4 linked regions of the Homo sapiens genome follow. The protein of the gene in region 4 purifies or fractionates together with the protein of the main gene of each other region. This does not show direct contact. Each region holds a gene or a part of one and is shown on either strand. Other genes may lie near its edges.

Region 1 (7,025 bases), on a different chromosome or scaffold from region 4:
CCCTTGGCGCTGGTCCGCTCCTCAGCAGGTGGGGGCAGTGGGGGGCTGCTCCGGGCCGTGGGAGTCCAGGTCTCTGGCAGGGGTGGAGGGGCTGGTGGTGTGGGCTGCCCCTCAAGCTCAGACTCTGGGGCAGTTGGCTCTCGGACTGGGCCAGGCTCCAGAGGCTGCCGGGGTGCAGGGCCAGGCCGCCCAGAGGCACCTGCCTCAAAGGACCCCACGGGAATGCTGGCGATGGCTGCCTTCACTTTCTGGGGGGCCTTCGGGCTGGGCCGCTGGGCCTTGGGGGCCACTAAGCTGTAGGTCATGGAACCTGCTAGTGGGGAGAAAATTGTTTGCTGAGCCAGGCCTGACTGGAGCCCATCCCCTGGGTCCCCCAACTCACTCTGCTCTGGGTTGATCTGACACCTACCTGTGGCGCTGGGGAAAGGGCTAGTCGGGGCTGGGGTGGCAGTGGCAGGGGCTGGCGGGCCCTTGGGCAGAATGGTGGCTGCAGGTGGGGTTGTGCTGGTGGCCACAGTGTAGACCAGGCTTGGGGGGGCCTGGGATGGCTGGGCCAGGGGTGCTGAGGAGGTGGGTGCAGGGCTGCCAGAGTAAAATGCTGTTATGACAGGACCTCCGGGGGCTGCACAGGCAGGCGGCAGCTGGGGACTGGGCACAGGTGACACGCCCACCTGACCGGGAGCCAGCAGTGGGGCTTGGCCTGCTGAAAGACAGAGAAGAAGAAGCAGGAGACCAAGTTAGGGCCCGGACTGCCTCAGCCCCACCCTGGGTCCCCAGCACTGCCTGCCAGGCCGCCCCTCACCTGAGAGCAGGGGCTGCACGAAGGCGGGGCCGCTGGGCCCCAGCGAGGTGAAGCCTAGAGCTACAGAGCTCGTGGGCCCGTACGAGGTGACTGTTCCAGCCTGGCTGGACGCAGGGCTGGTACCCAGGGGCAGCGCGTGCCCGCCCGCTGACTGCACATAGGTGATTCTGCCGCAGGAGAGGAAATGGGGAGGAGTGAGGTAAGCCGGCCCCGCCCCACCCCTTCCCTGGCCTCTGAGTATGGGCTCAGCTGCAATTACCTGGTGGAGGAGGGCAACAGGACCTTCTGAGGCTGAGAGGTGGGTCCAGGGAGTGTGGCTGGGCTCAGGGGCGGCACCAGGCCGCTGGGTGTGCTCACAGGCACCGGGGTCAGCTGGATGATCTGTGGAGAAGGGCACCCATAGGCCAGGGTGAGCTGTGGCCCCAGACTGGGGCAGGGGAAGACCAAGACCTCAAGTGGGACTCTAAGCAAAAGCAAGGAACACAGAACTTGGGGTGAGAACAGGATGGGCAAGATGACAGTGAGAGGTGGGGACACAGAGAAGGAGGAGGGTACAGACACTGAGGACTTGAGAGAGTCAGGATGCACAGAGACATCACGGAAGATGGCAAGACAGAGAACCAGATACATGGAGAAGGAGAAAAGACTGAAAAAAAAGACAAAGAAATGATGGGGTACAGGGGCCAACATCCAGCAGGTAGAGAGAAAGGCAGGCCCTCACCTTGCTGGGGGGCTGGGCACCATTCTGCACAGGTACTGAGAAGGGCGGGCTCACCAGTGGCAGTGGCTGGCCGGCCCCTCCACCCCGCACTGACATGCTAGGGGCGGCCAGAGGCACTAGGACCTTCCCAGGCAGCAGCTGGGCTGAGCCACCCGGGGGCGGGGCCTGCACGGGAGAAACTGACTGGGCTGGAAGTTAAGAGGCAAGAAAGGAAAAGGTTACAAGGGAGCCAAACAGGACTATGGCCCCTCCCCTAGTGCTGCCCGGCCCAGGTCTCACCTTTGGGGGGTGGGGCGGAGGGTACAGACTGCAGGATGGGGATGCCAGGAGTGGGTGCAGTGGCAGCCAGGACTTTGCCGTTGGTGGAAGTGCCCGGTGGGAGGGTGAAACGGATGCTGGTGGTGGGTGCAGGGCCGCTGGGAGCCGCTGCCTTGGTCCCAGGGGCTGGTGCTGGGGCAGGTGCCACCTGAAGCTGCTGGGGCAGCGTGGGCAGGATGTACTGTACCTGGGTGATTCCCCCAGCCTTGCCCAGGGCACCTGGTTGCAGGATGCCCAGGGGTACTGGCCCATTGGGGCCACTCCCAGCACCTGCTCCTGAGCCCGCAGTGGTCCCACCACCAGGGGCCCCCTGGGCAATGAACTGGACAGCAGGGGGCGCAGGGGCCCCATACCCCGGGGTGCCCACCAGTAGGTTAGTGACAGTGGCAGGCGCCTTCCCCACAGTGCCCAGCAGGGGTCCAGCCACCAAGTGTGGGGCTGGTGAGGTGGCTGCTGCCGACTTCTTGTCCGAATACACTAAGCTGACACCCAGCGGGGAGCCCCCAGGCACCCGAGACCCAGTGCCCATTTCAGTCCTGGCACCTGCTGTGTCATTTGGAGACGCCTCAGCCCGGCCAGAGGTGGGGAAGGGCTTAGAGGCGATGGGCACAGGAGTGCTGCTGACAGGCCGCACCACATTGGTGACCATGGTGGCGGCAGGACGGGACAGGGGAGCTGCTGGGGCCCCATAGGCCAGTGATGGGGCGGGGGCGGAGGGCACTCTGGCTCCGCCGCCCTCTTGCTCCTCCTTGTTTGGGGGCAGCACCAGTGTCTGCAGGATGTTTCCTCCTCCGCTGGGAGGGGCCGCGATGACTGAGGGGCCTGGTGGCTCCAGGCCACCCACACTTTCGGGTCTCTTGCGCCGGAAGGTGGCAGGATCCATTGGGAGGAACCGGGTTGCCTTGGAAGGTGTCGCTGGACCCCCAGCCCCAGGGGGTGGGGGCCGTAGGGGGCCCGCTGTGCTGCCCTGACCAGACTCCTGGGCCTTGAAGGTTCCTGAGCCCAGTGAGAAGGAGGTGGCTGCCGAGGCTGAGGAGGAAGCAGGCGAGGACGCAGAGGAGGATGGGGCGGAACCATAGCCTTTGCCAAAGGCTACAGGAGGATCCGGGGGCCCTGGGGGCTCAGGGTCCAGTGGGGGGCGGCAGTGGGTAAAGGAGGAACGGATCACAGGTGAAAACACCTTCCGACCAAAGCCCTGCATGAAAGGAAGGGAGACACCCCAGGTCAGGACACTCCGACACCTCGATAGCAGCCCCCTAGCCATGCCCATCCAGCCTGTCAGCCAGGCCAGCCTAGGGCTGCACCCCTGCCAGCTGAAGGCCTCAATTCATCCTGACTATGACCCAACTCCCCACGGGGCAAGCAGCTTGCCCTCTCTGGACCTTAATCTCCCCCTCTCTCAAGCCCGGGAGAAACAGACATTCCCATGGCTTAGGAGGGAGTGTGATGGGACAGCACCGTGACCCAAGCCCTCACCTTGTTGCCCTCTGGGTCCTCCCCAGAGCTGTCCCCACTCTCGCTGTCGGTCACCCGCTCCTTGCACTTGAGATCAATGTCAGTGGTGCCGAAGCCATCGTCAGCTGAGGGAGTGGAGGGAACAGTATGGGGAGGGGGCTAGATGCAGGGGGACCCAGGAGAAACAGTCTGGAGCCTGGATCTCAGCTCTGCTCCAAACCGGCAGGGAGTGCTGTCCAGGAAGGCTACTCCTCAGCCCAGGGCTGTGCCCACATGCCCAGTGCCCACTGCCCAGTGCAGGAGCCTATGAGCCTGCAGGACAGAGCCCCTAACACTGCACCTGAAGATCTGGTCATGCCCCCTGTCCTCCAGATTTCCTGCAGGGCTGGGGGCTTCCTGAGGGCAGGGCTGGATTTACTCGGCAGGGCCTGAACTGGCCACATGCAACCATAAACCAAGTGGAAAAGAAAACAAAGGGGCCTAGGGGCCTGGATCCAAGTTCTGCCCACCCTCTGAGCCTTGGCCTGCTGGGTCCTGGGCAAGATTCTGGGCCCTGCAATGCTCACCAATGACATCATCATCCCCTTCCTCCTCACAGATGACCATGCGCTCCTCATCACTCGTCATGTCCTCACTGGCCGCACGCTGAGAACGAGAAGCTCGGGTGGGCAGCAGCGGGGGCCGCCCAGTGGCCGCCAAGGCACCTCCCTCACCAGGGGCTGCAAAGGGTCCTGGAGCTCCATACTGGGTAGAAGGCTTTGGGCCAGAGTACGATGCAGGGCCAGACACCATCTGCAGGATAGGTGGCAGAGAGGGTTCAGCGGGGCTGCTGCCCTGGACAGGTTCCCTGCCCACCCCCACTAGGGGGCCTGCACCCTAGACCTGCGTCAGTTCCTGTAGCGCCTGACTGTCTACTTCTCCGCCGTCCAGGCTGTGTACCCCGCTGTGGGAGAAAGCTCGGGGCCGGGCTGAGCCAGGTCCCCCAACTGTGTGTAGCCGTTCTGCCCCACAGGAGCTGCTCCCCGGAGCCTTGGTGTCTGAGCTCAGGAGTGTCTGGGCTGCAACGGACAGGAGCTCAGAGGACACTGTAAAGTAGAGAGTGGCGCTATGACAGTCAGTAAGCCTGTCACCAGCACCTAGACTGGCCCAACAACCCATAGATATTTCTAGGTACTAGGCAGAAGCAGGCTGGAATTTCTGGGCCACTTGGTGAAAAAAAAAAACCACCACCCACCACCAGTCCAGCATCTCATTCCTGCTGATTCCTGCCCTCTGGGGTTGCAGCAGGCCCATTCCCTGGGGGGCAGCCCTCCTGAAAGTAAGGAGGCCTGGAGAGAGGTTCATGTGGTGCTGGCTAGCCAACCGCTGGCCTGAGCCTCGGTTCCCTCATCTCAAAGAGGAAGTAACTAGTGTCCCCACTCTCATAGAAGTGCATATCCATAGCAACTATCCATCTAACCTCACAGAACTGCCATACCCATAGGCTCACTCCAAAAATGTGCCCCAGAACACCGCCAGGCACACCAGACAACCTCAATAAGTGGAAGCAGCCCATCAGGGGTGTTTGCGAGCTGCAGTGGCCCCAACTATGGTGCTGGGGGCCCGCCGAACTGGGGTTTACATTCTGGCTCTGTCATTTGCTTGTTTATGACTTTAAGCAAGTGATTTTGCCTCTCTGAACCTCAGTTTCTTCTTCTAGAAATAGAATGGGGTTTTGCAGACTACAGCTTATATTCCCTGTAGTGCCAGGCACATAGTAAACACTCGTTAAACAACAGTTGATAACGAGATTGCTGTTTGGGAATCTTAGTATCTGTGTGGATCTCCCTGGCTCCGTCACATGAATCAACTGCCGGTTCCTTTACGGATAAGGGTCGCCAAATTAAAGCGATAGAGCAGAGAGGAGCTGCTGGGGCAGGGGAGGAGCAAGCAAGGGGGTAGCTGGTGGCTCTCGGGGAGGGAGGTGGCAGGGTGGGAGAGCCAAGGGGCTGACTAACCCCCAGGGGCAGCAGCAGTGCCCGTCTCCGACATGCTCCGCTCCCGCGTCTCCTTGTGCCCTCCTGCCAGCCCCAGGCTCGTGGGCTTGGCCTCTGAGCTGGACTTCTTTCGGTCCTTGTTGCACCACTTCCAATCTGGGTGGGCCTTGAAGTGGGCCTCCTTCACCTGGCAGGAGAGGGCAGGGCAACCCTTCACTCACCCACCCCACCAGAAGAAGCTGGGAGGAGCCAAGAGGCAACAGCGTTACCTGGAAGGCCAGGTCGTGGTACTTCTGCTTCTCCTTGGGCCCCAGGGCATACCACCACTCGCCCAGGATCTTGCTGACGGTCCGGTTGTCCTGGTTGGGATGACGCTGGTGGACCAGGGCCCGGTGCCGCTTGCTGAAGATCATGAAGGCATTCATGGGCCGCCGGATGTGGTCCTTCTCCCGCTGCATTAAACACAGCCCAGAGCGGGACAGTTAGGACCTGGCAGACAGGTGTGGGTGGCCACGGGGTGAGCACAGGACAGGCAGGGATAAAGTACCTTGTTGGGGCTGCGTCCATCCTTCTCAGAAGATGAGTCCCGTTCCTTGGGTAGGGCACTGAGGGACTGGGTCCGACGTTTTCCGGGCGGTAGAGGCAACTGGATCTCAGGAGACATGATGGAGAGGAAGCTGCGGCGGGGCAGCAGGGACAGTGAGGGCCATGTCTCTGGCCATCCCACCCCCAAGTCCCAGGCCTCAGGGAACTCACGCATCATCATGGTCACTCTCTGTCTCACTGTCCAGCCGGGGCTCTCCTGGGGGGCCGGAGGCCTCCTCCTCCGTGGTGGGAGGCGGACCCTTACCAGATTCCACCACCCCCAAAGGGTGTGGGGGTCCGGGTCCTGGGCTCTCAGGGCATGTGGCTCCAGGGGGCCGCTCAGGGTCAGCACTCCCTGTCCCACCTGGTGGCCGTTCATGAGCAACAGCTGCCGACTCAGCAGGTTCTGGGGACACAGAGGTAGATCAGAGGGCTCCTAGGCCACCTGGACCCCACACCCTTGCCTCCCCCCAGTCCCCACCAGCCCTCACCTTTGCTCTGGTTGGAGGCCACTGGGTGGCTGGCAGGTTGCTGGGCCTCGCTCGGCTGCACGGAGGGGTCAGGCTGGCTGGGTGCCAGGAAGGGGACTAAGGAGTGCCAAGGGAACACAGCCACAGAGCGAGGTTCCACATTCGTCCACACTGTGGAAAGGAGCCAGGTGAGCTGTGCAGCAGGAGAGCCTGGCCCCAACCCCAACTCAAGCTCTTCCCCACCCTAGATGAGGTAGCCCCACCCCTTTTGTCTACCCCCCACCCCCAACACCAGAGCCTCTTGGACTCGTCCATGCAACGTCACTCAGGAAAAACTCCTCCCTGAAAGGTTTCTAGATTTATAAAAAAGAAAACAGAAGCAGGGAAGGGAAATAGTACTCACGCCCCACTCCTCCCCCCACCAATCTCCACCAGCCCTGCCACCAGGGACCAGGCCAGAGGAACGATTTGCTCCTGCCACAAACCAGGTCATGCTTGGCTGCCATCCCACACTCCCAAGGCCCCAGACCTCTACGGGCTGGGACCCCCACCCCCGTCATGCCACATTCCCAGCAGCCCAGTCGCCGCCCAACACAGCGTCTCACCTTGGCCTCATGCTCTCTTTCCCTTTCCTGAGGCATACGGCCCCACGTCCCCTCCCCTCCAACTCTCCGTTCACTATGCACAGGCTGTGGGGT
Region 2 (6,643 bases), on a different chromosome or scaffold from region 4:
TAGTAGATGAAAGGTTATAACTTTTTTTCTGTTTACATAAATAATACTATGCTTATTAAAGAAAATTTGTAAAAGACAAAAAGTGAGGAAGGTAATGACTCATCAACCAGAGAACATTAGCACTTTCATATAACAGCTTCTGAGTTTTTGTTTTATGTCACATTATATATTTGTAAATACTTGAAACCTAGATTTTTTTTCACTTAACATTAAAAAAAAAGTACTACCTCAAAACAATGACATTTAACAGCACAGTGAATGTTTTATATCAAGGCAATAACATATTGGGCACTTACAACACAGAATGTTTCATGGTCAGACAAAATCCATGCACTTTTCCTAGTCCATTCTTGAGCATCACAGTGATGAGCCACGGTGATGGAGGGCCATCTCAGATGTCAAGATGGTGGCACGTGGTGTTTGCATCTGAATCAGGCTTCATTTTTAATACTTTTTTATATTCTCTATTTATGTGAATTATTTGTCTGGCTACCTTCCAGCTCTCTGTTTTCTAGAAAGTAAGCTCTTTGAGGCATGGCAGGGACTTTGTTTTGCTCACAACCATATCCCCAGCGCCTAGGACGGTGTCTGACACAGAGTAGGTACCTACTAAATACCCCTTTCATGGATGTTCAGTTTTGCCTATAGAGATGCACTGTTGTACTACAGCCTGTCCAGCTAATTGCTGTACCCTAAATTAGTATAATAGACTATAAGTAAAATAGACTGTATATGTACTTAATGTAAAATACAAGCTTTCGTAAATAAAGAACAGTGCTGTATTTGATTTGCCTGGCTCAAATAAGCAAGAAATGGGCTCTTTCAGCAAATTATTATCCCTCATGCTGGACTGTCACTTAGTACATAATTAATATGAGCCAGGGATTATTCTAAGCACAGTTCATGTTTCATTTACTCCTCAAAACAACCTTATATGACATAGGCATTATTATATTAGATCCAGTTTATAAATGAGAAAACTGAAGCTTGGAAAGATTAAGTAATCTGAGTAAACTAGTAAACTGCAAAACTGGGATACAGTCCAAGATTGGGCACATTTTAAAACCGCATGTTTAACTACAATTCTCCATTGTCCTCAGTATTTTGAAATCAGGAGTATTTATGCATGGATTCAACAAATATTCACTGAGTGCCTGCTACATGCCTGGCACTGCCCTACGCACTGGGGTACTGCAAATGAACAAAACAATCCAAAATCTCTGCTCTCATGGGAATTTCTGGTGAGGGGAGATAGGTGATCAATAAATGAATAGGATATATAGTATGTCAGATGGTGACAAGTGATATGGAAAGAAGTAAGACAGGGAAGACAGCCTAGGGAATGCCATCCTGAGATGAAAGTTGAAATTTTAAATAGAATGGTCAGGGAGGCAAGACATCAGTGAGCAGGTGACTCAAGCAGAGACCTGAAGGAGGTGTGGGTGGTGTGTTCTGGGAAAAGCAAGCCCGGTGTGGAGGGAGCACAGTGGGGAGGGAAGTAGCTGATGAGGCAGGGAGATGGTGCGGTGGAGGTGCACAGTGGCGTGTGTGGGAGGAGGCAGGGCCTGCAGAGTCCATAGGCAAGTTTCAGGAATCAGAGTTCCAAGGTGAGTGGCCATCAGAGGGTTTGGAGAGGAGCAGATATGATGGGCATTTGAAGTAATCCTCCTGCCTCCTGGCTGCTGTGTTGAGGAGGGAGGGAGGGAGGTAGGGAGAGAGAGAGAGGGTGAGAGAGAGAAGAGAAGAGAGAGAGAGAGAGAGAGAGAGAGTGTGTGTGTGTGTGTGTGTGTGTGTGGAGAGAGAGAGAGGGTGAGAGAGAGAAGAGTGTGTGTGTGTGTGTGTGTGTGTGTGTGTGTGTGAAGGAGGGTACTTAGGAGGCTGTATAATCCAGTAAGTGATGATGGTGGATTGGTCCAAGTTATCACCTGTGGGGATGGTAAAAAGTGGTTAAGATTTTGAATACATTTTGAAAGTAGAGCCAACAGGATGTGCGGATGGATTAGATGTGAGGAAAAAAAAGACGACTGAGGAGGTTCTGTCCCTCAGCAGCTGTAAGGATGAAAGTGGCATCTATTGAGATATAGAAGATAGGAGCAACATTTTGGGGGAAATATCAGAAATTTGGTTTTGAATATGAGAAGTATGTGATGTCTATTAGACATCCAAATGGAAATGTCTAATAAGCAAATTGGATAAGCAAGCCTGGAAGTCAGAGAGAAATGTGCTGAAGTCAAAGCTATGAGGCAGTGACGTGAGACAGGTTTGAAGATTAAGTCCTGAGCACTCTGTGCTTAGAGGTTAAGGAGATAAGGAGACACCAGCAAAGGAGACTGAAGAGGAGTGAGCAGTAACGGAAGAGAGAAACCAGCAGACCGTTTCCTGCAGGCTGGGAAAGAAAGCGAAACAGGAAGGAAGAAGTCCGAACCACACCAGATGCTGCTGGCACGTCTGCACGAGGACTGAGAACTGACGAGTGGGTTTGGCGATGAGAACGCCGGAGGGGCCTTGGCAAGCAGTTTTAGCGCAGTGAGGCGGGAAGTCTGATCGGAGCGTGGAAGTAGAGGAACTGAAGATGGGGAATAGAGGCAGCTTTTCATGGTAATTTTATTATAAAGATAAAAAGGAAGAGCTTTGGGGCATTTGAGGTAAAACATCTTTACTTTTTTAAGATGTGGGAAATGGAAGCTTGTCTAATGATGCAAATGACTCAGTGAAGGGGAACAAGCCAGTGATGCAGGGGACAGTTGGTAGAGCAGGGCCCCTTAGTAGGTGGAGCAGTGGGATCTAGTGACAGAGCAAGGGCTCTGCTTTCTATAGGGTCTTGGACCTTTGATCCAGAGAAGATTGCATCCACAGGCCTCTCTGTAATAGGCAAGGAGACGTGGTGGGGAGAGCTTGTGGAGGTTCTTTTCAAGTGATTCTGGTTCTCAGTGAAATAGGAAGTCATGTCAGCTGAGGATGAGGATGAGAGGGGAGATGTCAGGCTTATGGGGAGAAGTATGAGAGTCCTGTAGGAGAATGAGCAAACTAGGAGAATGTGGTAGGACTGCAGGACAGAACAGAGGGCCCCATTTTGAACATGAAGCCATACAGAGTGGTAGCATTCAAAATAGACTACAATTCTTTAACTGAAAAATAATGGGGGCCTTGTTTTCTATGGACAGAATTCCCCTATAACCAGTACCACCACCCTATGCCAATTTATTGAATTCTTAGAATCACAGGAACTCTTTCCAAGTCCTGTCCTTAATTTAGTATTTAGGGGAAGATCCCACTCTAGAATAAAGTAAAGGAGCATGGATCCAAGTGATAACTTTTTAGGGTCCTTTCATTCTCCCATTAATTAGCAATTTTCCTGATGCTGTCCAGATCTGTGAGGCATCAAACTGCCCAGCCACCTAACTCCAGACACACTCTAATGTGTGTGGTGTAGGTATGAATTCCTCCATTCCTCTCTGTAGACTTCAGCCAAAGAGATGATGCATCTCTATCTGGTTTCACTTTTGTGTGCTGTAGGCAAAAATGTCATTTCTAAAAATTTAAGCAACAGCACATAATTTTAAATGGACTCTGAGATATTCAGCATGTATCATTGAAGCACATTTTTATGTATAGTATGCTGTGATGACAAGTGGGTGTGTGAATTTTCCCTGTTTATCACTGAGGGCTTACCTGGGACAGAGACACATCATATTGCTGGTGTGGTACCAACAGCCTGCCCAGTTATCTTCAGGCATGAAATAAACATTTTCCTAGTATAGTTTCTTTCTTTTCTTAAAAGAAAATGTACCGTAGGTTTATATGTACATTGGCAAGGCTATCAGCATTGCTATTTTTTTTATTTTTTCCATCTTCAGCATTTGCTATAATTTATGTCTAAAGAAGAAAAGACTATCGTGTGTAATGTTCATATGTAATTGCTTAGAAAGTATTTGGGGCTTTTATTTTTTATAAATTACCTACAGTAGCTTGGAGAGGAAACTTTTAAAAATTGACCACCACCTAGCAGCATCTTGTCCTAGGCCAAGTAGCCTAGGGTTTGAGGCATATTGGAGGTCTCAGCACCCTGCCCTCACTTCTCCAGGGCCAAAAAGCATCTGGTCAGCCTCATTCTGATTTTCAAGTTATAGTTCTAATCAAGAGAATTATTACAGCATTATTCTTTGGCCCAGAGTGCATTACAGTAAGCCAGAAAACACCAATCTGTTGGGTCTCTCTTACCAGAGACTTGGAAGTCATGATTTCTTTAAAGCATTTTCCCAGTTGAGATTATTGAAGGCATATGTAGTGTGATCAAATCCATCCATCCCATCCTGTGTCGTCTCATAAAGAGAAAAAGCGGTGGCCTGTTAATGACTTCAGAGCAGCAATTTCTTGGCATTACTGCTTTTTATGGCTTACCTTTTTCTTCCATCAACTCTTTATAGGCAGACATACTTAAAGACGCTGATATAAATATAAAAGAGGAGTATAGGGCTTTTAACAATTATTGAAAGTGAAATCAACAGTTACAAATACTGTCACTAGACAAAGGTACCAAGGAATTCACACACTCACATGCCTATCTCTGGGAAGAAAAAGTTAGATTCTTTACCTAGGTTAGTGCGGAGGAACTTGAATGTTACTCTGTGCTACTTAAATTTTTACAAGCATAGATGATTCATACTTGTTATACTTTTTATGACTATTCTTTAGGTATTACCATGCCATCATTTCCTCCACTTGCCTATTAAATCCTTTTTCTTTGCCTAACTTGTTTTAGCGATTTTCATGCTATGTTGCATTGAATTAGTAAATATGAATTTATTAAACCATCTTTGTTGTTGTTCCTAGGATTTAGAAGAATTCTGCTTCAGGTTTTGCATAAACCATCTGACTGTAGTAACACAAACATCAGGTTTTGCAGAAATGGACCATGATCTCCTGAAGAACTTTATCAGCAAAGCAAGCAGAGTTGGAGCCTTTAAAAATTGATCCCATCTGCAGGAAAGTTTTTGAGCCTTTCCATTTCCCCTGCAAAAGCCAGAGATGAATCACTTCTCTTTAATTAATAGTATGTATGATGAGCTATGTTTGGCTGAGTACTTGTAACTGTCAGAAGAAGGATGGTGGTGAGTGGTCTTTGTCTGCCTAAACCCAGAGTTTATGTAGAAAGCATTGAATGTTCTGATCAGATGTGACTAAGGTCAAGGAAAAAAAATTGAAATATCTTATTTACCATTTCCTCTTTTTGAGTCACTTAAATTGGACACCTTTGGTACCCTGGTCTCAGTATATGCTATTCTGGCCCAAATGTTCCATTATTCAGCTGGCTGATACCACATAGATAGCTTGACAAGGAGTGCTGTCTGTCCTTACCACATTTTCAGCACTCAGCACAGTGCCTTGTGTATAATAGGCACTCAATTTATTATAAATCTTCAGTATGTCCTGAGAACAGCTTTAGTCATGGAATACTGGGAGAAGGAATAACTTTCACAAAATAAACTTAAAACAGCCTGTAATTATTGAGGTTCATATTCTTCTGGTATATCATTCTGAGAAATTGTGGCTAATTTAGAACATTGTTTAGAATTGACAAAAGGCCCTGGCAATTAAATTGTCAAGGCCCAAGGGCTAATTTTAATTTTCTTTTTACTTGGAGTCATTCATTAATTTCTCACATGGGATTATGGAGTATGAAGTATTATCTTTGAATGAAATTCCTGGGCTGATCTGCCTTACATAATCACATAAGGTCCTTTGCTTTTCTTTGTGTTAAGAGGGACTTGCCTCTGTAAATGAAAATGACAATGTGCTTTTCTTGTAGTTGACTTTCATGTCACTCACTATAAAATAGGTCTCTTAACCTGGCACCAGTATAACTATAAAGCACTAGCTGAGAAGGAACTGATACTTACATTTCATGGACAGCATTAACAAGAATGAGATAAATTTGTACTTTTTAGATCAAAACAAATTACCTAATTGCAAAAGAGAAACTGAAATGGAACATAGTCTCAGATTCTTCTAATGTGTATCTCACAATGTCATGTAATGTAAAGGAAACCCTTTTGGAATTAGAATTCTTGTTCTGATGCTGAACTATTTGGTAATAAAGTGCTTATTTGCAGATAACAGAACAAATGTGTTGGGGTTTTTTTTAATCCCAAAACAGCAGCAAAATTATAAAATGTCAACCTCATGTCTCTTAGATGTACATAAATAAATTGGATATATTATGCTCTTATCAAGCAGTTACTCGGATAAAGTCTCATAGGAAAGCCCACCCTAGACCACAAATAGCTTATAAACAACCTAATTATCATTCATATTATTGTCTTGGTCTGCTCTTTATTGGTGAGGTGACTTTTTTGAAGACTATTTTTGTAGAGCAGTTTTAGGTTCACAGCAAAACTGTGAAGAAAACACAGTTTTCCCTTATGCCTCATGCCCTACACATGCGCAGCCTTCCCTGCTGTCAACACCCCCCACCAGAGTGGTGCATTTGTTATACCTGATGAACCTGCTTGGACACATCATTATCACCCACGGTCCATAGTTTACATTAGGGTCCATTGTTGGTGGTGCACATTCTGTGAGTTTGGACAAATGTATAATGACCTGTGTCCATCATTATTGTATCATAGAGAGTGGTTTCATT
Region 3 (7,128 bases), on a different chromosome or scaffold from region 4:
AACACATAAATACTTTTTCTCTCCTATTCTTGAATTTTTAGTAGATGACCTGACCATCTATTTCAGGAAGAAAATAGAGGTCTTCAGTTTGATAGGAATTTCCTTAACTTCTTGAAAGCAAATCTACACTCCTGATAACTTTCAATCCATTAATCCCTCTCTTGTACAATTAGCTCCTTTTCCTCTTGTACTTTTATTTTCTTCCTCTGCTGGATCCTTCCCCCTCACCATTTAAATAGCCTAAGTCTCTCCCATCAAAACACACAAAAATAGTAAAACTGGCTAGACTCTATAGGTACTCCTTTCAACTCTTCTCTCATTTTTAAATGAAAGTTCTAAAACTGCTGTCCCAATTTTCCTAGCTATTCCTTAACCTACCTGAATATAGACTTCTCACCTCCCCTCTCTTCCCCTCAGAACTCCATTAAATCTTTTCTTGCTAAGGTCTTCTGCCAAAGACATTCATGATGCTAAATATACCAGACCATTTCCAATCTTTTTTTAGCTTGACCACTTGACCACTTGGCAGCATTTGGCACTGCTAACCACACCATTTTTTTTTTTTTTTTTTTTCCTTGAGATGGCATTCTGCTCTTGTTGTCCAGGCTGGAGTGCAATGGCGCCATCTCGGCTCACTGCAACCTCCGCCTCCTGGTTTCAAGCGATTCTCCTGCTTCAGCCTCCAGAGTAACTGGGATTACAGGCGCCTGCCACCACACCTGGCTAATTTTGTATTTTTAATAGAGACGGGGTTTCTCCATGTTGGTCAGGCTGGTCTCGAACTCCTGACCTCAGGTGATCCTCGGCCTCCCAAAGTGTTGGGATTATGGGCATGAGCCACTGCACCTGGCCCACACCCTCTCTTTTGAAACACTCTCCTTTCACGGCCTTATTGATGTCATACTCTTCCAGTTTTCCATCTTTCTTCAGCTGCAATACTCAGTCCTTTCAGCTTCTTCCTTTTCTACTCAATCCATAAACATTGATACTTTTTAGATAAAAAGTCCTACACTCTCTTCCATTCTCCCATTTGGGACTAGGAGTCCCAAACTCAAATGCTTTCAGGGACTAAGCAAATAAGGAAAATGAATGATAGCTGAGTCTAAAACATTAGAAATTGGTGGGGATTATAGGGAACTGGACAGCTCAAATCCTATGTAGAAAAGGGTTCTCCATTTGGTTAAATTCAATTGCTGTAAAAGAAGAGCGGTCCTATATACTGGAATTTCCAAAAAGCCTATTTTTGTGTCCAATTTCTTCATCTTAAGAAATACCGTGGCCAGGCACGGTGGCTCATGCCTGTAATCCCAGCCCTTTGAGAGGCGGAGGCAGGCGATCACCTGAGGTCAGAAGTTCGAGACCAGGCTGGCCAACATGGCAAAACTCTATCTCTACTACAAATACAAAAAATTAGCCAGGCATGGTGGCAGGCTGTGTGAATAATAACAATTATGATAATATTTAATTTAATTTATGTGTTATTTTATATTTATTTTTTTTTTGAGGCAGAGTCTTGCTCTGTCACCCAGGCTGGAGTGCAGTGGCACGATCTCGGCTCACGCCATTCTTCTGCCTCAGCCTTCCCAGTAGCTGGAACCACAGGTGCCCGCCACCATGCCCGGCTAATTTTTTTGTATTTTTAGTGGAGACGGGGTTTCACCGTGTTAGCAAGGATGGTCTCGATCTCCTGACCTCGTGATCTGTCCGCCTCAGCCACCCAAAGTGCTGGGATTACAGGCGTGAGCCACTGCGCCCAGCGTATTTTTTTTTTTTTTTTTTTTTGAGACAGACTCTCGCTCTGTTGCTCAGGCTGGAGTGCAGTGGCACGGTCCCAGCTCACTGCAACCTCCGCCTCCCGAGTTCAAGCGATTCTCTTGCCTCAGCCTCCCGAGTAGCTGGGATTACAGGCGCATGCCACCATGCCCGGCTAATTTTTGTATTTTTAGTAAAGACAGGGTTTCACCGTGTTGGTCAGGCTGGTCTCAAACTCCTGACCTCATGATCCACCCACCTCGGCCTCCCAAAGTGCTGGGATTACAGGCATGAGCCACCAGCTGATGATAATATTTTAAAACACCAATTCAATCTACAAGCAGCTAGCCTATCACTCCTGCAGACTCTCTTTAAACAATCCCATCTATTCTTAACACTTCAATATTCCTTTTATGCTGTAAACTTGCAAATCTCTATCTCTACGGTTAGTCTTCTTCCCTAAACTATATGTAGGCCCATATATCCAAGGGCCTCTAACATTATCTCCTTATAATAACACCTCTGGTTCCATCCTCTCTCCCCATCCAGCTCCGCCAGTTGTATTTCCTATTTTGGTAGATGGTGCCAACAATCTACTGGCTCAAGCCAGAAATCCAGGAGCCATCTTTGACTATTCTTTCTCCCTTGTCACCAATATATCCAGCAATATTTATTTAGTATCTATGGCATGCTTTACAGCCAATGTTGGTTCTATCTCTAGATTTTTTTTTTTTTTTTTGAGACAGGGTCTCACTCTGTTGCCCAGGCTGGAGTGAAGTGGCACCATCTTAGCTCACTGCAGCCTCAACCTCCCTGAGCTCAAGTGATCCTCCCACCCCAGTCTTCCAAGTAGCTGAAACAATAGGTGCACACCATCACTAATTTTTTTGTATTTTGTAGAGACGATGTTTCACCATGTCACCCAGGCTGGTCTTGAACACCTGGGTTCCAGCGATCCTCCCCGACTGGGCCTCCCAAAGTGATGGGATTACAGGCCTGAACCACTGCGCCCAGCCTATCTCTAGATTCTGACCAGCTCTCTAATTCCATTTTCCCCCATGGTTTCATCTACATTACTAACAGTCTCCCAGTTGATCTCTATTCCTAGCAGCTTGTCCCATTTAATCTGTTCTCCATATTGGGGCTAGAATTATCTCTTTAAAAAGTACATCTTAGGATGTCACCATGCGGCAAGGCTTCCCCTTGCAAAAAGAAAATCTGACATCTTCAACACTTTTTATAAGGCACCCTTGTGCGTCTATCCAGCAACATTGTTTCAGTTTCCTGAATGCTATAATCTTGGTGCCTTTGCATGTGCTATACTTTTGGCTAAGAACACTTAGACTTCACATCACTTAAAAACATTTTTTGTTTTAATACAGATGGGGTCTCGCTATGTGCCCAGGCTGGCCTCAAACTCCTGGGCTGAACTCCTCCTCCCCAACTCGGCCTCCCAAAGTGCTGGGATTACAAGCGTGAGCCACCGCGCCCGCCCACATCTCTTCTTACAGGTCAACTGGCTTTCCTTGACACCCAGTTACTTCGTTCTTCAGGTGTTGCAAAACTCATCAGCAAGCACCTAGGCAATTACTGTTCAAAATATCTATGCAGTCTACTAGACTTAAGATTCAGAAAGGCAGAAACCACATATACCTTGTTCACAGCTGGACTTCTCAGTGTCTAGTACTAGGATTCTCAATACATATCTGTTGAAGTTATGATGACATTATTACCATATAGCTATTTGAGTTCCTCCGTAATCCCAATTCTCAAGTTCTTTGAGAGAAAAAAATAAGTAAATCTCAATTATAGAATTATCCTCAAAATGTATTTATATATAATATTTCTTTGGAGGAATTAAGGAAGCAGTCACATGCAGCTGACTGTGGGTCACTGGACTTTTTTTTTTTTTTGAGACGTTGTCTCGCTCTGTCGCCCAGGCTGGAATGCAGTGGCACTACCTCAGCTCACTACAACCTCCACCTCCCCGCTTCAAGCTATTCTCCTGCCTCAGCCTCCCGAATAGCTGGGATTACAGGCGCCCACCACCATTCCCGGCTAATTTTTGTATTTTTAGTAGAGACGGGGTTTCGCCATGTTGCCCAGGCTGGTTTCGAACTCCTGACCTCATGTGCTCCACCCGCCCAGGCCTCTCAAAGTGTTGGGATTACAGGCATGAGCCACCGCGCCGGCCTGGACTCTTTAAAGGAGTGGGGAAGGCCTGCACTAACGGGATCCGGTGTAAATAATTCTGAGCAGCTCCAGGTCCTGAGCCCAGCAAGCACGTGCTGCGGCAGGGCGCGGGGAGGGCGCGCTTCGCGGAGGAAGATTCCGGGCGGCCCGAACGTGCTCGCGCCCGTAGCTGCCGCTGCCGGGGCCGCGGCCGCCCGGGTGCCCAACCGAACGCACGTGCGCCAGCGGGGCCCGAGCAGAAGGGGAGCCCCGGCTCTCACGAAGAAAATGGAGGGCGACCCACGGGTTAGGGGTCAGGAAAGGCGTGGGGCGCATTATGCCCTGGGAGGGGAAAGCACGGAACAAGAGGCTCTGAGGGACGGAGAGGAAGGAGGGCGACCCACGAGCTAGGTAAGGCGGGCCAACCCAGGTCTCGGAAGGAAGGGGGCGGGGCAGGACGGGGCGGGAGGGGCCGCGCAGTAGCTGGGCTGTGAGGACGGTTGGCGAGTTCATTCCGGGCTCGGGTCGGGAAGTGTCCGCCCCTGGAGTCAAGCTGGGGAGGGTGAGAGGTTGAAGGGCAATGACTTAGGTTCCCAGCTTCTGGCCCTGCCAGGCTCTGCAGTAGCCCAAGCCCACCGCTGCCCGGTTTCTTCTCAGAGAGCAAGCCCTCGCCCTTCGTGAGCGCCAAATCCCCGCGCTCGGCCCCGCCCATCCACTGAGGGGTGTGGGTAGGGGCGTGGCCCGTTCCCTTGCTGGTCGGCGCCCGGAAGGCGTCCGCGTCAGCCGGAGCTCGACGCGGTGACGGTGTGCGTCGACGTAAGTGACGCGCAAGCCTGGGCCGCTCCTCCTTCCCTCAGTGAGTGCCGGCCCGGTCGGGGCGGGGGAGAAGAGGGAGGGCGGGGGAGGGAGAGGCGACCCGAGAGTCGTTGTGGGTCGCGGGCCGGACCGGGTCCCGGGGCGGTGGGAGCCCCGGCCGGGCAGAAGGGCTTGGCGGGCCGTTAGAGGACCGCCACGGCTGTCGAGTCCCCTCCCTTGTTGGACTTGCGCGCCCTGGCGCTCGGAACCTCCGGCGCTGTGCCCACCCCGCTCTAGCTCGCGTCTCCCGACTCCAATTAGGTCAGGCTCGGAGTCCCGCGGCCGCGGCTCCGGTCTCAACGCTCCGGGGCCGCTCGGCTCGCCTTTCTTCCCTCGCCTTTCTCTCCTCTTGCTTCACCCTCCCCCCTTCTTTTCACGTTGCTGGTTTTTTTTGTTGTTGTTTTATGCTTTAGGGGTTTTGTTCCTCGGCTCGAGCTCATGGGTGTACATTATCATGCTCTTCTTTTGTAGAGCAGCCCGACGGCCATGGAGGCTGAAGAGACGATGGAATGCCTTCAGGAGTTCCCTGAACATCATAAAATGATCCTCGACCGATTGAATGAACAGCGAGAGCAGGACCGGTTTACTGACATCACCCTAATTGTCGACGGTGGGTAGGGCAGTGGGCAGAGGAGCGAATTTTTGGCTTCAGTTTTTTTCTGTCCTTCGGACACCCGCCTTTTTTTTTTTTTTTTTTTTTTTAACCCATCCTCTATGGTCTCCCTACCAAAGTCTGCAGAGTGTGTGCACTGGGACCAGATTGCACTTGTCAGTGTCCACTCACACAGCGTGCTGCAGAAGGCTGGTTGGTCAGTCATGCCTTCCACGTAGTCTGGTGTTCATCTCATTTTAACTTCTTACATCCTGTTGAGTGCAAGATGATGTCGTTGGGGACAGATTGTCTCAAAATGTTTGGTTGATAGCCTCTTGTTGGTAAGCTTTGAGAAGTCCCTTACAGGAGTCATTTGGGAAGTGTTGATTTTTTTTCTAGTTTCCCAAATGGTCTTGAAGGGAGAATGAGAGATTCCATTGCAGCACTCATACCCCCTTTGAGAATCTCCAAAATAAAATGGGGTCTTTACCAGCCTTAGGAGTTGCCTCTATAATGGAAGGAAATCCAGCGTGGGTATGTTTTCTGTTTAGCGAAAATAGGTTTCTCAAGGTAACCTGTTTTTAAAATTATGGGTCTACCATAGATGGAGCTTCCAAATATTAGGCATATTAAAATGTTTTTCATAGCAGACATATCCAGCTTTGTGCTTACGGTTTTTTTCTCTCTTTCCAAATGATATGTGACCTTTTGGGTTGTCCTTTTATTTAGCAGTTTCAACTGAGTTGGATATGCTTCTCACTACTTAATTGGAAACAACAGAGTGTCAAGAGGCTCCTTACCTAGTGTTGTAAATTAGGCTTTATAAAACTAAAGGGGTTTGAAGTGAAGATTTAGCTTTATATCTAATTGAGATTAACATTTGCCAAGATAGCTGCCAAGAATATTCTGCATTTAGTTCAATAATTTCTGTAGTTACGTAATGAAGGAAGACCTATTTTGCTTTATATGATTTTTAAGTCTATTTTGTAGTTATACATTTGATTTTCGTGCTTGTGTATGATTTTCTTTTTTTTTCTTATTTTACCTAGGACACCATTTTAAGGCTCACAAGGCTGTTTTGGCTGCTTGTAGTAAGTTCTTCTACAAATTCTTTCAGGAGTTTACCCAAGAACCATTGGTGGAGATAGAAGGTAAATGATTCTTGTTGTTTTTTTATTTAATAAATCAAAGAAGCCATTTTATTTAAATGCTTGTTTTAAATACAATACTTAGCAAACAATTGGTGAAGCAGTTTTAGACAGTTTATCAAGACACCATAGGAAATAGGCATCAGTAGTTCCTGTAGGTAAAGGTAGATAAATTGTTCTTTTGATACCTGAGAAGTCTTACTTTCAGTGAAGTGCTTGGTTGAATGATCTGCCAGGAAAAACTTAGATGGTAGATGTTGGTCTTTTCCATTGTGGAAACTGGTGGTCATTGTTTTTTGAAAACAAGTATTAAACGTGAATTACTATCTTTGTTCAGTGGGCTTATGTTTCAGACTGCTGGAGATGCTGCAGGTTACAGTAGAAGCTTTTACTGTACTCTATAGCAGAAGTAGTGATGTATTAGCAGAGGTACAGATGACATGCAGTGTGAAGTGGGCTGCCATAATAGGGAGAAAGCTAGGAAAAATGAACTGAAGTAGCATTTAGAGGAAATTCTGGCTCTACAATGGGATGGATCAATACCTGTTACCTTGAAGCAAAAAGTGATTTTTGTACTTTCTAGACATTTTTCTAATAATAACCTGCCAA
Region 4 (7,066 bases):
GCACATTTTGCCCAGTTGAAAGGTCTCCTGGCAGGTTGGTTAGCAACAGGCTTGCCAGTCTGGGTTCTGTTAGCAAAGAATAAACACATTTCATTAGACAATGACTAGTGGACTGACTTCCTCACTATGAAGTTGTTTTTTTTTTTCTATTTTATTTTCTTCAGCCATTCCCCCTCCCCCACCACTTGTTATTCAACTTTTTACTTGTAATTCTTGCCTCGATACGATTTCCAATTTCTTGACGGCAGACATTTCCACGTCTTTGTGGCTGTGATTAACGCAGTCTAATTGCCAAGAACAGGTACCGAGTAAAAGTTTATTTGAAGGAAAGAAAAGCGACACAGCAGTCTTACATCGTCCCTCGGTAGTTTAAAGTTGTGGCTAGATACGTATCAATTAAGGAATCAAGCTGAGGCATCTGCAAGTACCAATTTTACTGTAATGCTCTAAAATTTGGTCACTTGGGGAAGTCTTTACTTGTAACAGTGTAAGTACACAAGGGACAGGAGGGTTTTGCGAGAAAGGCGGGCGCTCTGCCCTGTTCTGCCCGTGACATGATGACGTAAGAACGACTCCCAGAAACTGCCTGAGTCGCCTGCGTCCCCAGCTCCCCGATGTGCACCTGGGCGCGGGACGCCGCAGGACGGAGCGAGAGCGCTCCTCGGTCCCGCTCCCCTGCGCACGGGCCGGCGAGGACCCGGGCGTCTTCACCCCCACAGGAAGGAGCAGAGAGAGCCACCCGAAGTCGGCCTCGAGTCATCCGTGTCCCCGGGTGCCCTGCCTCTCCAGGATACCTGCGTAACTCGCAGCAGCCAAGCCCCACTACGTTCAAAAGTGTGTTTGTGGTTGTCACAGTGCACACCGAAAAGCTCGCTCCGCACCCGCAGAGTGCGCGGGGCCTCTGAGCCTGGAAACAAGCCCCTCCCAGCGCAGCTGTCGCCGCCGCCTGCGGGCTCCTTTCACTTTCTCACGGCCAAGTCACCCAGAGGGGCGCCGCTGCTGCCACCGCCGCTGCGCCCGAGGACTCCGCCCCGCGCCGCTTCGCTCCGGATCCCCGCCCGCCCGAGCCCCGCCCACCCCAACAGTTGCTGCCTGCGATTGGAACGCGCGGGAGGGCAGCTACGGCTCGCCACCCCCATTGGCTGGGCCCCCTTGTCAGTCCGACGACTGCCCACCACCCCCTCCGCCTTCCCGAAGAGCCGCCTTCCCATTGGAGGAGTCTGAGGGCTGGGGGCGGGCGGGGAGCGCCGGTCCAGCCGCTTTCGGTCAATCGCAGAAGCCCAACGCCCGGAGGGAGGGAGGCAGGGGAAGGAGAGGGGCGGACTGAGGGTGGGGGGAACATCTGGCCGGCGCCGCCGCGTGCGTGCGTGGTGCGTCCTCCCGCCCCCTCCCCTCCCCCTCCCCCGCGCCCGCCCCCCCCCCGCCCCCGCCCCCCCACCCGGCCCGGCGGCTCCGCGCTCGCTCCCTCGCTCGCTCCCTCGCTGTGTCTGGCAGGCTGCGGCCGCCGCTGGGCTGCTGCCATGGGGAGCCGTTGAGAGTGGGGCCCTCTTCGCTCCGCCGCGCTCCTCCGGCTGCCAGCGGGGGTGGGCGGGAGGGAGGGGCGGGGGGGAGCGGGCGACGGAGCCGGGATTGGGGGGTGGGGGGGCCGGGAGGGAGGGGGGCAAGAGCCGGAGGAAGCCCACCAAGTCCGGCGGCGGCGGCGGCGGCCGGGAGGAGGAGGAGGAGGAGGCGGAGGACGCGGCGGCGGCGGGGACGCGGTGACTTAGGGCCGCTCCGTGTGAGTCCCGGCGCCGGCCCCTGGCCCCTGACCTGGCGCCCCCTCCGCGCCCCGGCACCCCGGCGGGCGGGGGGCGCCAGCTGTGCGGCCCCGGCCGGCTGGGCGGCGCGGGCGGAGGGCGGGCCGGGTCGGGGGCGCCCCCGCGAGTGGAGTTAGTTTGTGTGGTTGGAGCTGTTGGGGCGGCGGGGGGCGGCGCAGCTGCGGGAGGCCCGGGCGCGGGGACGGGGCCGCTGCAGCTGCGGGGTCGGGCGGGGTGCGGGTTCCCGGCTCCGCGCCGCGCCCCCGCGGGCCGGTGCAGCTGCGGCGCGGGGCGGGCTCCCGGCCGGTGCAGCTGCGGTGGCGCCTCTCGGGTGCGGAGGGCGGCGGGCTGGGGGAGGGGGCTTGGGAGCAGCCGCAGCTGCAGTGGCGCCCGGGACGGCCGCGGCTCCGGGGACCGGTGCAGCTGCAGTGGCGCCCGGGGGAGGGGGCCGGCGGGGGAGGGGGCCCTCCCGGGCTGGTGCAGTTGCCCGGAGGCCCCGGGGGCTCGCGCGTCGCGGCATCGGGGAAGCGGTAGCAACCACTCTCCTCCCGCTGGCTGCTTCTTACGACTTTTCTTTTGTTGTTGCCGTGACCCGGGTCTGTTTTCTCCTCTGTTGTTTAAGGTGTTTTCCTGCTGCACCGGCTCTGCGCCCTCCACCTCCTTCCCTGTGGTTTTAACCTTCCTCTTTCCCCGTGTGTTTTATGCACGGCGAACTACGTAAAGATTTGCATTGCTTCCCCACTCGGCACCCCCGCCCCCACCTCTCTGAAAAACAAAACCCCAACCTCACAAAACCTCTATGGATCCGCGGTAGCGAGACGTGAAGGGGTTGATTTGTGGAGTGGGAGTTGCTGGCCCATTGCGGTGCCCGGGACTCATTAAACTGTCACTCACCCCCCACCCCACTGGGTAAATGGGGTGATTAATGTCTGATATATTGGAATGGGTCGAGGGCATTTGTGGAGAATAGGTGGTGTGGCTGGGAAGAAATTGATCTCCCGAGGATGTCTCCTGGACTAAGTGTTCATAATTATGTCACTCACCGCGAAGTTGGAGAAAGTTAGGTTTGTGACTTTGGGAAAGCGAGAAGGACAGGACGGAGTCGTCGGGTTTTGTTACTCTTTAACTCTCCGCCACGGCTTTCTAATGGGAACGAAGTGGTTATCACCAGGGCTGGGACGCTGGCGCCTCAGGCCCCAGTTCCTTTTCTACCCCTCGCCCTCCCAAGAGTCTGAGGAGATGTATTTGACATTCAGAGATGTCGCAGCACCCTGCCCGGTACCGGTCAGCCCAGCCCGGGTCGCGTTACAGTTTCATCAGCTATTAGAAAAGACCCACAAACTGGCTGAAAAGTTCTCAAACTTACTAGACCTGGCTTCCCCCCACACAAAGATTTTCTTGTGATCATAAACATTAGAGTGACCCCCCCCCAAAGAAAAAAAAGATTGTTAAGGGACACAGATCAAGGGGAAGGCAAGGTTCTGCTTTTTCTGAGCAGAAAGATCAGATATGCAGGTGCAGCATTCATTTTAAGTGACTGGAGCAGGTTGTATCAGTTTATTAATTGGTCTCGTTGAACTGAAGTACTTTCCAGGATTTCAGAAAGTGCAGTTTCAGCTTGTTGGTACCGAGAATTGAAATTTGCATTGACTGTGGCAGTGTAAGAAATTTTTCTGAGAAGGTAGTTGTAGATAAGTAATTACATAAGAGTGAAATAATAAGGTGAACCAGTCTGAAGTAATAGTTCTGAACAAGTCTGCCAACATTTGAGACATGTATACCATTATCTCAGCAGAAAAAAATAAAAAAGTGCGGTAATAATGTTGAAATGGGACTGGAGATGTCAAATGGGTTGGTTTAAAAATATCCCTAAACTGCTTTAGAAACTAAACGTTGGAGTTGAATAAAAGTGAATCTGGATTTCCTGAATAGCACCGTGGCTTGAGTGTGCTGTCAGTATGTAAGCCAGTCCACCAACTTAAGACAGAAGTGTTGCTATTCCATAAATACAGTAGAACTCCATATGCTGAGTTTTTCAATTTCTTCTGTTAGAAAGTTTGGAAAAAAAGGAAGACTTTGAAGTATTTTGTTTATACTAACAGAAGAGAAAAGTTCTCCTAAGAAAAAGCTGGTGGCAGGAGTGTAGAGGAGTAGCATATGGCATTAAAAGGAGCACAGCTGGAGGTAGCATTTCCATCTGAACATGATGTCAGAGCAGCTGACAGCCTGCCATCCCTCAGCCTTTTATTCTAACACACAGACAGGGAGTTAGTGTGTGCGGATCTGTGGTGGAGAAGGTATCTCATTCCTCTCTAACATCATCTCCACTTTGCATCTGTCTCTCTTAGTCTGCTTTTTTTCCACCGATGTAACAGACCTGGAGCCAGCAGGACTCAGAGGAAAGGACTTAATCAGGTTTATGTGTCCTAAAGGTAGGAGTAGCAAGAGATTAGATTGAGCATATTTCTGTTTTGGTGTTTTGTTTATTTAATTTTAAAAATCACATTACTTTTCTAACCCAGTTTAGGAATAATATATGAAATTGAGTATTAAATGAACATCTTACTGGAGTTGAAAGTCTTGAGCTTGTTTAGTTTTAATTTTTTATCCCTTTTACTTGAGCGAGTAAATAACTTTAATACACAAATATTTCAAGTTTTGAAATGTTAAGAAAGGCTTTAAAATGCTGCTTTTGGAAATCACGTTGGATTAAAATGCTTTTTTGTTGTTCACTGCTATTTAGATTTGATTGGGGTGGTGGTGGTGGGGAAATAGTAAACTGGAATCCAGCATTCAAACTTATATGAGAAGATTATTCTAGTTAAGCAGCTAGATTGTTGTATAATTAATTCCTCTGTGAAACTTTATTCTTCAAAACATTGAGCAGCACTACTGAAACATACAGCTGTAGTGCTGTTGAAACTGCAGGTTTTTAAGAAGAAGAAAAAAAAACCAAACTTTTGTCCCCAGGAGAATAGTTTGACTGGTTTCCTCATTTCTCTTTCAAATATATATTTAAGAGATCTTTTATTTCAGCATAACAATAATTATTTGCAGGAGTTTTTGTGTTAGCGACTAATTTAGAACTTGTAGATTTGAGCTGCCTGAATTGGCCAGACAGCTGTAATCGCACTCCTCTATTCTTAATCTCTTTATCTGGGCAGCAGCTGCCATATGGCCACAGTCAGCTGGATCAGATGTTTATAAGCTTCCTTCTTCGTCCCTCTCTGTCCTCTCAGCCTCCTAATTTGATCACGGCTACCTTGTGAGCTGCCCTCCAATCTTTATTTTTAGCCTTCTCAAGGATTAGGATTGATGTTAGCTGTGGGGCACTTAAAGTGATTGTATTGTAAATCTTAGTTTATTCTAGCAGTGGCATCTTGCAGAATGTGTCTGGGGTTAGGATAAAGTTTTAGTCTGTCTTGGGCAAAGTGTAGAAGAACAAGAAGAAAGGAAGTAATTTCTGAATATTAAATTAAGTGTATCTATTCCCAAAATGCACTTGCTGAGATGGGTGGTGTGGAGGCTTGCTTCTGGTCACAGGAAAGGGGAAGTCGGGTCTTCTTTATTTTTCAGGAGTTTACCCACTGCAGTTGAATTCTGACCCTTTGTACATCTTTGCCTTTCTCCTCCCTCCATTTCACTTTCCCTCATCACAAAACAAGGGCAATGATGAATATTTGCAAGAATAGAAGCTAGTGGGAAAACAGAAATATATCAAATTATATTGAAACAAAGTATTTTCTGTTGGCTGAGGTAAGGCAGAACCAGGAAAAAAAAAAAGGTTCTCTTTTTCTAAAAAGGCTTAAAAAAAAACGTTGAACCTGTAAAGCTTTTGAGTTTTATTTAAGCGCTGTATGCCTTTATTTTTAAAAGTTTGAATTAATTTCAATATGAAACTCATTTTGCCTTGCAACGGATCAAAGTTTAGATGAGAATTTTCGGAGTTCAGTAAAGCCCCTCTGGTTCCTAATATTCTGAAAGTACAGTTTCTACAAAGAAATGTAACTACTTTTTTCTCAGTTCGTTTTGAAAAATCTTTGGATTTGTTCATAGTAAAGATGATCTTTTCCATCTGTTGGTGCAGCTCCTTCTGATCTCGTACATGTGTGCTATACCTGCAAATCTGAAGGCATTAACATCTGTTTTTATACACAGGGCTTTTGTTGTAACACCCTGACTTTAAAAGTAAGTTGTTTGCTAATTTCTGGACTAATTATGCAATTTCATTTTTTTTTCTTGATTCAGCCAAATGTGTGTGTGTGTGTTTAAACTGTGCTTTCTAAGCACAGTCAGGTAGCAAAAGTAATAAAAAGGATGGTTGAACAAGTTTTCTTGTATGTTCCAGGATATGTTTGGGACTTTTCTTTGTTTATTATATGAGTTGTTCCCTTTGAAATTAAAGCTATTTTGTAGGTTTTGTGGGACATAATTTGATAAGTAGAGTTAATTAAATTTCTTCTGGAAGAGATCTAAATTCTTATTCTTAGTGAGAGACTGTAGTTAAAGGAAGGCTTTTAGAACTTGGGTTCAAGGAAGATGGAGATGCGTCGGAAGCTCTTTGGCGGGGGTGAGGAAGTTCAGAAAGTGTGCATTTTCCTTCTGGCATTTAGGTCTTGTCCGTGTGATTTGGTGGTGCTTGGGTCATAAGCCTGATTAAAATTCAGGGACATGTACCACGGCGGCCAAAGCGGAATTAATTTTTTTATATGGGGACTGGAGCGCTGAAAAGTTGTTCCTGACCAGGCTCTAATGAGAAATTCCTCTCTCCCCAGGTTATGAAGACAGTATGGAGTTTCCAGACCATAGTAGACATTTGCTACAGTGTCTGAGCGAGCAGAGACACCAGGGTTTTCTTTGTGACTGCACTGTTCTGGTGGGAGATGCCCAGTTCCGAGCGCACCGAGCTGTACTGGCTTCATGCAGCATGTATTTCCACCTCTTTTACAAGGACCAGCTGGACAAAAGAGACATTGTTCATCTGAACAGCGACATTGTTACAGCCCCCGCTTTCGCTCTCCTGCTTGAATTCATGTATGAAGGGAAACTCCAGTTCAAAGACTTGCCCATTGAAGACGTGCTAGCAGCTGCCAGTTATCTCCACATGTATGACATTGTCAAAGTCTGCAAAAAGAAGCTGAAAGAGAAAGCCACCACGGAGGCAGACAGCACCAAAAAGGAAGAAGATGCTTCAAGTTGTTCGGACAAAGTCGAGAGTCTCTCCGATGGCAGCAGCCACATAGCAGGCGATTTGCCCAGTGATGAAGATG

What was found.
Region 1: the proteins of ZBTB18 (region 4) and CIC purify together in Homo sapiens (affinity purification with mass spectrometry; 2 studies listed by BioGRID and IntAct, with this or other methods). This does not show direct contact.
Region 2: the proteins of ZBTB18 (region 4) and RCBTB2 purify together in Homo sapiens (affinity purification with mass spectrometry; 2 studies listed by BioGRID and IntAct, with this or other methods). This does not show direct contact.
Region 3: the proteins of ZBTB18 (region 4) and ZNF131 purify together in Homo sapiens (affinity purification with mass spectrometry; 2 studies listed by BioGRID and IntAct, with this or other methods). This does not show direct contact.

What each region holds. Positions count from the first base shown.
Region 1 is NC_000019.10:42,286,244-42,293,268, reverse strand, and holds part of CIC (protein capicua homolog), read right to left. Parts: exon of another isoform or gene 6,933-7,025; intron 6,499-6,932; coding exon 6,349-6,498; intron 6,264-6,348; coding exon 6,029-6,263; intron 5,950-6,028; coding exon 5,820-5,949; intron 5,725-5,819; coding exon 5,542-5,724; intron 5,460-5,541; coding exon 5,294-5,459; intron 4,382-5,293; coding exon 4,179-4,381; intron 4,089-4,178; coding exon 3,863-4,088; intron 3,422-3,862; coding exon 3,318-3,421; intron 3,037-3,317; coding exon 1,803-3,036; intron 1,712-1,802; coding exon 1,524-1,711; intron 1,184-1,523; coding exon 1,062-1,183; intron 970-1,061; coding exon 803-969; intron 704-802; coding exon 410-703; intron 314-409; coding exon 1-313. UniProt on the Homo sapiens protein: Transcriptional repressor which plays a role in development of the central nervous system (CNS). In concert with ATXN1 and ATXN1L, involved in brain development.
Region 2 is NC_000013.11:48,488,442-48,495,084, reverse strand, and holds the end of RCBTB2 (RCC1 and BTB domain-containing protein 2), read left to right. Parts: intron 1-4,833; coding exon 4,834-4,974; 3' UTR 4,975-6,122; downstream 6,123-6,643.
Region 3 is NC_000005.10:43,116,789-43,123,916, forward strand, and holds the start of ZNF131 (zinc finger protein 131), read left to right. Parts: upstream 1-4,125; 5' UTR 4,126-4,335; exon of another isoform or gene 4,336-5,250; 5' UTR 5,251-5,265; coding exon 5,266-5,389; intron 5,390-6,420; coding exon 6,421-6,522; intron 6,523-7,128. UniProt on the Homo sapiens protein: Plays a role during development and organogenesis as well as in the function of the adult central nervous system. May be involved in transcriptional regulation as a repressor of ESR1/ER-alpha signaling.
Region 4 is NC_000001.11:244,047,217-244,054,282, forward strand, and holds the start of ZBTB18 (zinc finger and BTB domain-containing protein 18), read left to right. Parts: upstream 1-4,066; 5' UTR 4,067-4,215; coding exon 4,216-4,228; intron 4,229-5,883; exon of another isoform or gene 5,884-5,984; intron 5,985-6,278; exon of another isoform or gene 6,279-6,571; coding exon 6,572-7,066.